Linked DNA regions of Homo sapiens. The protein of the gene in region 1 interacts with the protein of each later gene in a pairwise test. Each region holds a gene or a part of one and is shown on either strand. Other genes may lie near its edges.

What was found. Proteins that work in one complex are often made in the same cells at the same time.
Region 2: the proteins of GFAP (region 1) and RAB38 interact in binary tests that used the Homo sapiens proteins (3 or more experiments, as listed by UniProt).
Region 3: the proteins of GFAP (region 1) and CCDC57 interact in binary tests that used the Homo sapiens proteins (3 or more experiments, as listed by UniProt).
Region 4: the proteins of GFAP (region 1) and LONRF2 interact in binary tests that used the Homo sapiens proteins (3 or more experiments, as listed by UniProt).

What each region holds. Positions count from the first base shown.
Region 1 is NC_000017.11:44,905,501-44,909,000, reverse strand, and holds part of GFAP (glial fibrillary acidic protein), read left to right. Parts: intron 1-851; coding exon 852-937; intron 938-1,612; coding exon 1,613-1,654; 3' UTR 1,655-3,500.
Region 2 is NC_000011.10:88,168,944-88,172,443, forward strand, and holds part of RAB38 (ras-related protein Rab-38), read right to left. Parts: intron 1-3,500. UniProt on the Homo sapiens protein: The small GTPases Rab are key regulators of intracellular membrane trafficking, from the formation of transport vesicles to their fusion with membranes.
Region 3 is NC_000017.11:82,199,343-82,202,842, forward strand, and holds part of CCDC57 (coiled-coil domain-containing protein 57), read right to left. Parts: intron 2,611-3,500; coding exon of another isoform or gene 2,603-2,610; coding exon 2,196-2,602; intron 1-2,195. UniProt on the Homo sapiens protein: Pleiotropic regulator of centriole duplication, mitosis, and ciliogenesis. Critical interface between centrosome and microtubule-mediated cellular processes. Centriole duplication protein required for recruitment of CEP63, CEP152, and PLK4 to the centrosome.
Region 4 is NC_000002.12:100,302,002-100,305,501, reverse strand, and holds part of LONRF2 (LON peptidase N-terminal domain and RING finger protein 2), read left to right. Parts: intron 1-2,458; coding exon 2,459-2,581; intron 2,582-3,500.

The sequences.
Region 1 (3,500 bases):
GACTCCCGAGTAAGGGGATTACAGGTGCGAGCCACCACACCTGGCTAATCTTTCTTTTTCTTTCTTTCTTTCTTTCTTCCTTCCTTCCTTCCTTCCTTCCTTTCTCTTTCCTGCTTGCTTGCTTGCTTGCTTGCCTGCTTTCGACGGAGTCTTACTCTGTTGCTCAGGCTGGAGTGCAGTGGCACGATCGCAGCTTACTGCAACCTCCGCCTCCCAGGTTCAAGTGATTCTCCTCTCTCAGCCTCCTGAGTAGCTGGGACTACAGGCACCTGTCACCATGCCTGACTAATTTTTGTATTTTTAGTAGAGACAGGGTTTCACCATATTAGTCAGGCTGGTCTCAAACTCCTGACCTCAGGCGATCCACCTGCCTCGGCCTCCCAAAGTGCTGGGATTACAGGTGTGAGCCACCATGCCTGGCCTATTTTTTGTATTTTTAGTAGAGGTTTCACTATGTTGGCCAGGCTGGTCTCGAACTCCTGGCGTCAGGTGATCCACCTGCCTCAGCCTCCCAAAATGATGGCATTATAGGTGTGAGCCACCGCACCCCTCCTGGTCTCCTGATTTCAATACCGTGCTGGGTTTTCAGAAAGCCAGGTGCCAGGCCAGGGCTTGCAGAGGGGCTGAAATGAAGCCAGGCCAGAAGACAGAGCAGCCAGGACTCTGGCAGCAGCACTATTGGGATTTGGGGGCTCTCCAGCCCGTTTGGAAGAGCCTAGGCTCTCTCTGCTCGGTTGCATAGGTTCTCATACTCATGATGGGGAGGGGGGTGCGATGGGGAAGCCGGGCATGGGAGAGGATGGCTCATGCCCTGAAAGTCCATGAGAGGCCTCCTCTCCCCACATCTGCAGAAACCAGCCTGGACACCAAGTCTGTGTCAGAAGGCCACCTCAAGAGGAACATCGTGGTGAAGACCGTGGAGATGCGGGATGGAGAGGTAAGGAGGGATTTGGGCCCAGTCAGGCTCTGGCTGGCCCCAGGGATTCTCAAGGCCAGGCCATGGAGGAAAGCCTGGGGCTGGCACATAGAAGGTTCCCAGCAACTCCCAGTAGCTCCCCAGGGAATTCTGGAGGAGAGCAAGGAAACTGAATGTAATTCCGTTTCCTCAGTCCCTCCATAGGCTGTTCTAAGGGGAGCCTTGGTACCAAAGCCACTAGATGGGATCCTAATACACACTCTCTCTTTCTCACCCTCAAACTCGGGGGCCTTGCTTGCCAGGGAGAGAAAGAGAATTAAAGTTAGTAGCTTTCACTTCCAACTCTAGCAGACACAGTTGGGGATGGGGAGGGCTTTCCATTTCCAGCTTGGTAAAAGGAAACTACCAGGGGAATGGGAAGAGGGGATTTGGCGTATCCGCCACGCCACTCCAACCACAGTGGGAGCTCATCTTACTCCAGCAGCTTACCACTCGCCAGGCATGACGCTAAATGCTTTCCCAGTGTTATCTCACCACCCCCTCTGTCCACCACGCAAGGCAGCTGTGGTTACTATCAAGAAAAGTAAGACCTGGGAAGTCGGGGACTTCCCAAGGTTACACAGCCTCGTGGTGGTGGACCTGGGGTCTGTGTGAACTCCTAACTGTTGCACTGTGCACGTTCCCTGTCCCCTGCAGGTCATTAAGGAGTCCAAGCAGGAGCACAAGGATGTGATGTGAGGCAGGACCCACCTGGTGGCCTCTGCCCCGTCTCATGAGGGGCCCGAGCAGAAGCAGGATAGTTGCTCCGCCTCTGCTGGCACATTTCCCCAGACCTGAGCTCCCCACCACCCCAGCTGCTCCCCTCCCTCCTCTGTCCCTAGGTCAGCTTGCTGCCCTAGGCTCCGTCAGTATCAGGCCTGCCAGACGGCACCCACCCAGCACCCAGCAACTCCAACTAACAAGAAACTCACCCCCAAGGGGCAGTCTGGAGGGGCATGGCCAGCAGCTTGCGTTAGAATGAGGAGGAAGGAGAGAAGGGGAGGAGGGCGGGGGGCACCTACTACATCGCCCTCCACATCCCTGATTCCTGTTGTTATGGAAACTGTTGCCAGAGATGGAGGTTCTCTCGGAGTATCTGGGAACTGTGCCTTTGAGTTTCCTCAGGCTGCTGGAGGAAAACTGAGACTCAGACAGGAAAGGGAAGGCCCCACAGACAAGGTAGCCCTGGCCAGAGGCTTGTTTTGTCTTTTGGTTTTTATGAGGTGGGATATCCCTATGCTGCCTAGGCTGACCTTGAACTCCTGGGCTCAAGCAGTCTACCCACCTCAGCCTCCTGTGTAGCTGGGATTATAGATTGGAGCCACCATGCCCAGCTCAGAGGGTTGTTCTCCTAGACTGACCCTGATCAGTCTAAGATGGGTGGGGACGTCCTGCCACCTGGGGCAGTCACCTGCCCAGATCCCAGAAGGACCTCCTGAGCGATGACTCAAGTGTCTCAGTCCACCTGAGCTGCCATCCAGGGATGCCATCTGTGGGCACGCTGTGGGCAGGTGGGAGCTTGATTCTCAGCACTTGGGGGATCTGTTGTGTACGTGGAGAGGGATGAGGTGCTGGGAGGGATAGAGGGGGGCTGCCTGGCCCCCAGCTGTGGGTACAGAGAGGTCAAGCCCAGGAGGACTGCCCCGTGCAGACTGGAGGGGACGCTGGTAGAGATGGAGGAGGAGGCAATTGGGATGGCGCTAGGCATACAAGTAGGGGTTGTGGGTGACCAGTTGCACTTGGCCTCTGGATTGTGGGAATTAAGGAAGTGACTCATCCTCTTGAAGATGCTGAAACAGGAGAGAAAGGGGATGTATCCATGGGGGCAGGGCATGACTTTGTCCCATTTCTAAAGGCCTCTTCCTTGCTGTGTCATACCAGGCCGCCCCAGCCTCTGAGCCCCTGGGACTGCTGCTTCTTAACCCCAGTAAGCCACTGCCACACGTCTGACCCTCTCCACCCCATAGTGACCGGCTGCTTTTCCCTAAGCCAAGGGCCTCTTGCGGTCCCTTCTTACTCACACACAAAATGTACCCAGTATTCTAGGTAGTGCCCTATTTTACAATTGTAAAACTGAGGCACGAGCAAAGTGAAGACACTGGCTCATATTCCTGCAGCCTGGAGGCCGGGTGCTCAGGGCTGACACGTCCACCCCAGTGCACCCACTCTGCTTTGACTGAGCAGACTGGTGAGCAGACTGGTGGGATCTGTGCCCAGAGATGGGACTGGGAGGGCCCACTTCAGGGTTCTCCTCTCCCCTCTAAGGCCGAAGAAGGGTCCTTCCCTCTCCCCAAGACTTGGTGTCCTTTCCCTCCACTCCTTCCTGCCACCTGCTGCTGCTGCTGCTGCTAATCTTCAGGGCACTGCTGCTGCCTTTAGTCGCTGAGGAAAAATAAAGACAAATGCTGCGCCCTTCCCCAGAGTGGACTCTGATCTGTTCATGAGAGGGCGGGACTGGGGCCAAGATGTAGCCTTTGACAAGACCAACTCATTTCTTATTACTGATCATCTCTGGGGCCCATGCCCTCACCAAATTCCACCCGCA
Region 2 (3,500 bases), on another chromosome or scaffold:
TCATCACAGCATGTGTAATCTATAGCCAATAGAAAAGAAAGATGTTCTGGGAAGATAAATTTGGCTTTGATACACCTGAGAACTGGAGGAGGCAGAGATTAGAGCTAGCTAAGAGGCTATGATCCAGAACAGGTATGTAAAAAAGTGCTGTCTCTGGTCTATGGCAGTGGGAAAAGAGAGGCATATGTACTATCTGACTTGGAGACTGGTGACATATGAGGGTCAAAAGAGAAAAGATGGCAGAGGTTTCAAGCCTAAGTAACTGGGGGTAAGGTATTTTGGTTAACACAAACTAGAAAGTCCACTGAATGTGGACAAATGTCTAGTTTAGACTTACAAATAGCATCATTTACTACTTATCATTAAGTGGGGGCAAATATGCATACATTGTTTGTATTTCTTTCTTGTTTTTCTTTTCTGTTTTCCAGCTTTGCTACACTGAGCACATATTACTTTATTAATAGAAAAAACAATCCTGTTTTCACACAAACTTTGTTATGCACATGTTCACAGGCAGTATAGGTGAGATATTGTAGAGGAGATGTTCAGCAGGAAGATGGAATTGTAAGCCTGAGCTCATGAGTAGTCAAGGATATAGGCATAGTTTTAAAGTCATCTGCATAGAGTTAAAGCCCTGGGAATGCATGAGATCCTCAAGCAAAGGAGACTGAATTAGAGGGCCAGATGATGAAATTCTGTCTCAAGTTGTGCAGCCCTGACGCACTCACAGGGAATGACTGGTGCTAGGTAAGAGCACAAGAAACATCACACTAGCCTTGAGGTTTTGTCAACTTCCTCAGATTTAGTCTCAGAGAGTAGGAGAACGAGGTGTGGACAACATCTCTGCACCATGAGAGTGTTCTGAAGTTATGTCTATCAATGCTCTTTACTTATTGTTACAGTGATTTGTTTTTGTGTCATCATGCTGATGAAGCTGGGATGAAGAAGTAAATCTTATTCAATTATTATCCTTCTTTGTTTTTCCCTCACCTAAGTACTTTCACATACCAGGCACTTTATATATACATACATATATTTGCTGAAGAAACCAATCACACATATAGAGCTACTTTTTCCAATCCCCTCCCACTCTCAAATGCCTTAGCTTTCCTTGGTCAAGCTGCTACTTGCTTTTCTATCAGAATCAGTCCTCTAAAACCCAGATGACACGACATGTCCTGCCTTGAGGCGTTTTCTCCATATATCCCTCATTCCTACTTTGAAAGTTCACCATTTTTGCTCACTGTACACATTATTTACCCGTAAGAACATAGCATGTTATTTTACGTGGCATTTAGAAAATCTGTAATTAGCTAAGCTAGAAACAAGGCAATAAACTGCCCAGTGGAGCATGGCTCAGACTCGATATGCATTTTGGGGGGTTTTATTTGACACACTCATCGCCAAATTTAGCTCTTTCTACATTCCTAGACCTACTACTTTGACATTTAAGACCCATCTTCTACAACTGCTTGAAGAAATAGTCTTTCAGAAATCGGTACTAAAGAGATAGTTAAGTCCGAATCCTATCTTTGGTTGAATTTCACAACCTGAAAGAACTTCACAAACTCTAAAACAACATAACAATGTGACCCAAATAAGTGTCAGAGTTGCTGGTGTGAAGAGTCAGTTTAAGGACTCCTGACACTGGGCCTGGGCTGCCTTCATCCTGTTACTTTGTCTATGGGACAGTTAATGTATTCTTCTGCTGTCATGTCACATGGCTTAGGTGGGGGAAGCTGGTATAGATGTGCCTTGAGTGGAAATATTTTTCTTATAGGGTAGATCTTATTTTAAGTATTTAGAGGCATTTGTTATTTAGCAGAGCTCTGCAGTCAAACTTTTACATAGCAAAGAAACACTCGAAACACTCTCTAAATTGTCTGCCAACTTAATTTATTTTCCACTATAGCAATATAAAACTGGATTGGGTTTTTTTATTACCAACAGACTTGGTTATCTCACTCATACAAGTAAGCTGAAGCTAAACAGACCGACTGTTCCTATTCTCCTCTGCCACTTATGATCTCAGGCAACTCTCTTACCTCTCTCATTTTTTATCTTTTTAAATAAAATTGGGTTTAGGACTATCTGCTTGTCTACACCCTCAGCAATGCTGGGGAGATCAAGTGGGAAAATGTATGTGAAAACAGTCTGTAATAATAACAATTATGACAACAGGAATAATAGCTAACACTCATTCAGCATTTATTATGTGTCAGGCACAGCTTTGCATAAATTAACTCATTTAATTCTTACAAAAATACTAAGATGCAGGTATTGTTATTATTCCCATTTTACAGACAGAAAACGAAGGCACAGAGGCTAAGTAACTCACACAAGTCACAAAGCTAGTAAGTAAAGAAGCTGGAATAAATGACCATGTGCTACCTATACCCTGAGGACAGTGATAATAAACCTTTTGCTTACAGAGACTACAAAAGATAAAATAAGTATCACAGGAAAATTAAATAATCATCATTTTATAGATGAGGCAATTGAGGTTCAGCAAGGTTTCACAGTTTGCCTAATTATATTTTCAGAGTATCTAAATTTAGAATATATTTAAACTATGTCTGAAGTGCTCTGTTTTCAAATTAAGGACAGTAGAGCAAATCTTTTGAAAACAGATTCAATGGTCAATTTTAAATTCTAGTGGCCTAACCAGCTATTATACTGGGAAATTATAGATTAAATATGCCTGGACATTCATAAGAATAAGGGCTTAAGAAATATTAGCTACTATCCCTATAAATGTCCCAATGCCTAGATCAGAGTCCCAAAGCACATCAAGAGTTCTAGACAAGATAGTACAGTTCTTTTTGAAAGGGTGAATGAGCAATTATAGTCTCTGGATTTGGAGAGTAATAAAAAAGTGGAGTCTCAAGTGTGAACTTTTTGTTTTCATTTTCCCTAAATGACCTATTTTTTTAAAAACTCTATAAATTCACATCCTAATCAAGATAAAATTTTCAGAAATAGATTTTAATTCATTCCTTTTCACTGAATGCACAGTGGTACTTAATAATACCAAAAATCCAGTTAGAAAGGAGAAGGTAAGTTTAACCCACCTACTAATGAAACAACACCTTTAAAAAGAAGGCATAATCCCTGTGGGCCAGCTGTGTGCCAGGCACTCACAGGCCAGCAAGTGCAAACAGCAAGGCTTGACTCTGAGTGAAACGGAACCGGGTCAAATCTGGCTCTTCCTCTACTAGCTGGGTGGCCTCAGGCAAAGTTACTTCATTTCTTTGACTCTATCAGGAGCCTCTGAACACACAGCTGACCTTCTAGCATGGAATCACTGGAATCCAGGCCAACTGCTGTCCCCTATGGGGTTTGGTGGGATTTATCATCTTGTTTCAAGGCCTACTTCACAAGACCCCAGAGATACTTTTTGGAGTCTTTCAAGATCAGACTGGCCAATCTACATGGCTATAAGAGACACATCATGGGAATTTAGTAGATTAAAAAGGGCCCTATTTGGCATTGAACCAAAT
Region 3 (3,500 bases), about 37 Mb from region 1:
TGGCACACACCTGTAGTGACAGCTCCTCGGGAGGCTGAGGCAGGAGAACCCCTTGAACCCCGGAGGCAGAGGTTGCAGTGATCCGAGATCGCGCCACTGCACTCCAGCCTGGGCGACAGAGCAAGACTCTGTCTCAAAAAAAAAAAAAGAGTGTGAGACTGAAAAAGTACCTGAACATGGCTGAAAACATCCCAGGTTTGGAGAGAAGAATGAGCAAAAGACTTGAAGAGACACTTCACAACATAACGTAAAGCACTTTTAAAAGGATGCTGTAAACACTCTGGAAAGCAGCTATGAGAAAGTCAGCACCCGCACGGCGGGCAAGTGGGCCTCAGCTGTCCAAGCACTGCACGCACCTGCACGGACTCGGCGCCCAGACGAGGTGCAGGCTGAGCACCAGCCTTCATGCTGGGGACGGGAGCTTCCAGACACCCTCCCTCCACTCAGGGAGAAGCTGACCTCCAGCTCAACTCTCTCTTTCCCTGGACACTGGGCAGGTGGCACACGGGTGTCTACCACATTAGCAAGCAGCACTGCGTGGGTCAAATGACTGCTGACTGGCACTTTTTATCCACGCCGCGAGATGCGATAGAGAGAGGGACCATCAACACTGTGGGCTTCCCAGAAGACGGTGGCGCTCAGGGTACATCTGCTGCAGGGACTGCAGACGCGATCCCTGCGGGCTGCTACAGGAGATACTGGCTGCACAATACTGGTTGGGGCTTCTGAGCTAGAGGGGCACCACACCCACCAATGTGGGTCTCCTCTCCTTGCACCTGACCTGCCGCAGAAGGTCTCTCTGCTGGACCGGAGCACCTGGTGTGGTCCTGTTGGCCCGTTCACACCCATCTGAGACCCTTCTGAGCAAACCGGCCCAACACACACAACAGAGGGTAGCTGGTCAGTTAAAAGGGCGTGGCAGAACCCAGCGCACTGACACGAAGGACAGACACCACAAATCGATCAGGAAGTGCTGGACGCACATTTCGGAGCAGTGTGCGCAGGTGGCTCTATATGGGGCCTGGAGATGACACAACAGATTGCCCGTGGCGGCTTTCACTTCGCCATTCCACCACAGTATCTTCTCTGAGAAATGACTTTCTATGATAAGAATAGTTTACTCCTGCGGCTTTAAAAAGTGCTTTAAAAAGCTGCTTATGGCCAGGCGCGGTAGCTCACGTCTATAATCCCAGCACTTCAGGAAGCCAAGGCCAGTGGATCACCTGAGGTCAGGAGTTCAAGACCAGCCTGGGCAACATGGCAAAACCCCGTCTCTACTAAAAATACAAAAGAAAAAAAAATTAGCCGGGCGTGGTGGTGGGCACCTATAGTCCCAGCTACGTGGGAGGCTGAGGCAGGAGAATCACTTGAACCCGGGAGATGGAGGTTGCAGCGAGCCGAGATCACGCTACTGCGATCCAGCCTGGACAACACAGCTAAAAACTCTGTCTCAAAAAAAAAGAAAAGAAAAAAAATGCTGCTTATGTTAGAAGAATACATAAAACATAAAAAAAGTACCCAGGATCCTGTTAAGTGTAAACAGAGCATGCAGCCGGCTCTCCTAACGTCTGTACACACGCATCACACAGGAAGGGCCTCTGTTAATGTGCTATGATGAACCTGCGGTACTTCTGAAGTGGGGGATGGAAGAGCTTATCAGAGAAGCCTGTCCTCCTTCCTTCCTGTCTCCTCAAACTCTCCACAGCATGGCTGGGTGAGTGGAGCTGAGGGGATACCAGGCATGTGGTTGAGTTCCAGGGGCCCCACCACAGGCCCCACAACAAAGGCTTTAGGTTTTTATGTCGACTTGCCTTAAGTCAGCTCATTTAGTTTTGAAATTACTACAGACTTCCATTAAAATCATTATAAATTCAAATATGTATTAATATAGATTTATAATTAATGAAATAAATTCCAAATATTAAAACCAATCTCCATTAATTTCAGAGTTATATCAGAACCCAGAAAAAGACAGTCAGGGCATTCCTGGATCCATCCACATTAACTCAACAAACACATGTTCAGAGGCCACGAGGCACTCGGCCACTCAGACAGACCAGCTCCCGTGGCCTGGAATCAGCAGCGGGAGGAGGGGCAGTGAGAGTGGGCAGTGCTCGGGCAGCACAGCGGAGCAGGAGGCATGTGGGGGCCTCTGCCAGGCACTGCACAGGAGGGCGCGTCGGTCGGTGGCTCACCTGTGGACGCGCTCCAGCTCCAGGCGATGCTCCTGGAATGCCAGCTGCTGCTGCTGCTGCAGCTCCTCCACCTTCCTGGCCTCTCTGGCTAGCGCCTGCCTCAGCTTAGCTGCCTCTATCTTGAGCTCGCTCACCTCTGCCCGCCTGGCCTCTTCCCACTCCCTGGCCTGGGCGAAGGCGGCGTCATAGCGCTCCAGCTCGAGGTCCCGCTCCTCCAGCACCTGAAGGTTGTAGACAAAGTCCTCCTGCAGGCACCGCAGTTTCCCCTGCGCCTCCTCCAGCTGGCTCCGTGTGTCCTGCAGAGCCGCCTCCTGCAGCTGGGTGCGGTGTGCCTGCAGCGCCCTCCACTCCTCCTCCTTGCGAAGCAGCAGCTCATTCAGGGCGGGCTCTGAGCCCAGTGGCAGCATGGTGGCCGCTGCAGTAAAGAGAAATCAGGTTCAGGGTGCACCGTGAGGGGCCCTAATTTTCCTACCACAGTACCTACCTCACATTCCCTATCAACAGTTACCACGGCCGGGCACGGTGGCTCACACCTGTAATCCCAGCCCTTTGGGAGGCCGAGGCAGGCGGATCACCTGAGGTCAGGAGTTCAAGACCAGCCTGGCCAACATGGCAAAAACCTGTCTCTACTAAAAATACAAAAATTAGGCCGGGTGCAGTGGCTCACGCCTGTAATCCCAGCACTTTGGGAGGCCCAGGTGGATGGATCACTTGAGGTCAGGAGATCGAGACCAGCCTGGCTAACATGGTGAAACCCCGTCTCTACTAAAAATACAAAAAATTAGCCTGCTGTGGTGGCACGTGCCTGTAGTCCCAGCTACTCGGGAGGCTGAGGCAGGAGAATCGCTTGAACCCAGGAGGTAGAGGTTGCACACCAGCCTGGGTGACAGAGCAAGACTCTCTCTCAAAACAAAATAAACAAAAAAAAAAGGCCAGGCATGGTGGCTCACTCCTGTAATCCCAGCCCTTTGGGAGGCCAAAGTGGGTGGGTCACCTGAGGTCAGGAGTTTGAGACCGGCCTGGCCAACATGGTGAAACCCCGTCTCTACTAAAAATATAAAAATTAGCCATGCATGGTGGCGCATGCCTGTGATCTCAGCTACTCGGGAGGCTGAGGCAGGAGGATCACTTGAACCCAGGAAGTGGAGGTTGCAGTGAGCAGAGATCGCACCATTGCACTCCAGCCTGGGCGACACTAAGACTCTTTTCTCCAAAAAATTAAAAAAATAAATTAAAAAAAAGAAATCCAGGGGAAGTAGAGGAAGGGAAGATGGGAAACATGGTTTGTCCAGCTATAAGAGCTAG
Region 4 (3,500 bases), on another chromosome or scaffold:
GCAGTAAGACAGGACCTGAAAATAGACCTTCACATTTACCCATCAGTGGCTGCCAATGTTCTGGAGAATTTTTATACAGAAATAATTAAAATGACATTAACAGGGGTAGTGGTTTACTTCTGGTAATAGTGAAGGAGTGAAGTCGTCATGTGAATCCAGAGGGGAAAACAGTTATAAGAACTGTATTAAAAAAAATAAAGACACTATAAAACATCCAAAAACAGAAGCTGGAGGAGAGTTTCTAAAAAAACCTGCACATGAAAAGGAAAAGAATTGTGTGTGGGTTTTTTGTTTGTTTGTTTTTTGTTTTGTCTTTTTGGTCCCTGAGTTCTGTCTATCTCCACAGCTGCAGCTGCACAAAAACAGTACTGGGACAAACACTCAGGATCACTACGTGAAAGTACCAGGAGTTCAGAGTTCCGAGTTCTAACAGAAGAGCTGGAAATTAGGGGAATCCCTAAAAGCAGAGAAATCCCGGAGTGGATGATTCCCAGCTCTGGCCAAATCCTGGCTTATTTCCAAATTTCATAGGCATCAGGGAGAACCACAAGGCTTAAAAAGGAGCCATGGAGGCTGGGTGCAGTGGCTCACGCCTATAATCCCAGCACTTGGTGAGGCCAAGGCAGGTGGATCACAAGGTCAGGAGTTTGAGACTAGCCTGGCCAATATGGTGAAACCCCATCTCAACTAAAAAAAAAAAAAAAAAAAAAATTAGCCAGGCATGGTGGCAGGCGCCTGTAGTCCCAGCTACTCAGGAGGCTGAGGCAGGAGAATCACTTGAACCTGGGAGGCAGGGGTTCCAATGAGCCATGATTGTACCACTGCACGCCAGCCTGGACGAGCGAGCAAGACTCTGTCTCAAAAAAAAAAAAAAAACAGTCAACTAAAATTGTCTCTGAGTGGGCCCAGATATTATATTTTCCACAAAGAGACTTTGAAGAAGTTATTATGCATAAGTTCAAAGAGTTAAATTGCATGCAAAGAATTGAAGGACAATATGGTACCTTTGACTTAAGAGCAATCTCAACAGGGAGATGGAAACTATAAAAAATGGAAATTCTGGCTGGGTTCATGGTTCATGCATGTATGCCCAATGCTTTGGGAGGCTGAGGCAGGAGGATCACTTGAGGCCAGGAGTTCAAGACCAGCCTGGGAAACATCACGAGACCCCAAGTCTACAAAAAAATTAGCCAGGCAGGGTGGCATGTGCCTGTAGTCTGAGCTACTCTGGAGGCTGAGGCAGATTGTTTGAACCCAGGAGTTAAGGGTCACAGTGAGATGTGATCATGCCATTGCGTTCTAGCCTGGGCAACAGGGTGAGACCCTGTCTCTAAAAAAGAAAAAAAAAGGAAATTCTAGAGATAAAAATTATCAATGCTGAAATTTAAAATTTCTAGGTAGGGTTAATAACACATTATACATGGCAAAATAATCAGTGAAATTGAAGATAGATCTATAGGAAGAGAAATTATTCAATGCAAAAAACAGAAAGAAAAAAGATTAAAGAAAAACAAAAAGAATCTTGGAAACTTGTGGGACAATATGAAGTGGTACAACGTATGTGCAATTGGAATCTCAGAAGAAGACAGAAAATGTTTGGCAAGAAAAAAAAAGAAGAAATAATGGGTAAAAAGTTTCCAAATTTAGTGGGAAACATTAATTTCAGATCCAAGAAGGTTAACTCAACTTATAAGCAATGATAAACTCAAGTCATAATCAAATGGCTAGGCTGTAAACCAAAGATAAAAGGAAAGTCTTGAAAGCAGTAAAGAAAAATGACATGGAATGAGAATGAGAAAAATGACATACAGGGAAATAATATTTATGGTTGTCATCTCATCTGAAACTGTGGAAGCTGGTTGACATTGGAACAACATATTTCAAGTGCTAAGAGAAAGTCTTTCAACTATATGTAAACCAGTAAAAAAAGAAACAAAAATAGTGTTTTTATAGATTTGAGAAAATACTGCATTCATAAGATGAAAAGAAAATGCCATGGGAAATTACTGATCCATATTGTATTTTGTTTACTTTTATTGTGGCACTTAGTATATTATGATTTGTATTGTAATTGTTTTTAGTCGTGTCTGTCTTAGCTCATGAGACTGTAAACTCCTGGAAGCCAGGAAGATGGTAATGACCTGTAACTGCTGAATGAATTTAAAGTGGATAGCCAGTTTTCTCTTAGCACGTCCCTTAGAACTCCTTTGAGCAGAACATTTCAGGTACGGTAGCTCCTGTGTTCTGACTGTAGATTGTATTTATGAGCTATTGAAGTTTGCTAAGTTTCCAGGGTAGAGAAAGTAGCGATAGAGTCATCCTTTGATGGGCTTTGTTTATTCTATGTAATGTGAAATTAAAACAAATTGTTCTAATAAATTTGTTCAGGGAAGTTTGTATTCAAGTATATAATCATGCTGGGTTTTAAAAATGTACACTTTGTCTTCGGTGAATCTAGGGACATCAAGTAAAAGCTCAGGCTCTTTCTGGATTGGGAAGAAGTAAGGAAGTGTTAAAGGAATTTCTCTACTGCCTTGCTCTGAATCCTGAATGTAACTCTGTGAAGAAAGAAGCACAGAAGGTATGAGTTCTGTTAAAGGACTTTCTCTATCAGGTCTTATTTATAGCCTTCATGTCCATGCTGAGTAACCCTTGCATGTGAAATAAACAAGAAATATAATTCTGAATGTTCGTGATAATGCAATAAAAAACGCATGGCAATAATTGTAAGGTTCATACATTGGATAACTTCTAGGTAAACATTATATTTTGTCCCTGGGTAAAGCAGAGTGTTTCATGAGACAGTGTAAACATGCCTCGATTCTGTTGACATAAAGACACATGTTAGGCAAGGTTATTATAGTTTGTGTAGAAGCTTCATAAAAGACATTATGATATATGTAAAATGTATCAATTCGGCTCTATAGGGTGACCTGTAATTTTCAGCAAAGGTTCACCAGCATAGTGCAGAAATACCTGCTCTTTTACCCATCATCCAGTCACACTGAATGTGGAAATCTGTCCTGTTAAAAAGCTTATACAATAGTTACCTGGTATTTACTTAGCATTTCCAATGACCAGCGTTTTTATGTTTTTATGTTTGCGCTTCCCTGTTTTAACACTGTTTATTGTCAACTTCTACCACGTATTTACCCTGTAATTTTTACTTACCTGTGTAGTTCTATTTTCTGGAGCAACAGAAAATGAATCAGTTCTTCCTTGTACAATTCAAACCACGTTAGATGTTTGGGAACAGCTATTATCTTTGCCTTAATGTCACCCTGTGGGCCAAACATTCTTTTCTCACAGAGTGGCGTTTCTAAGATTTCCTCTTCTGGATGTGTTCTAATGTACCCTGTGTTTTAGCATCTACATTTGACAGCCACAGTTGGTGAAATTTTACCTTCACTTGTGTTCACATTAGGGGCATGTTTATTTTTAAATACCTCGTTCCTCTTTTTTAAAAGTAAGAACTTCAGAGCAATGTTGTTTTTTATCTT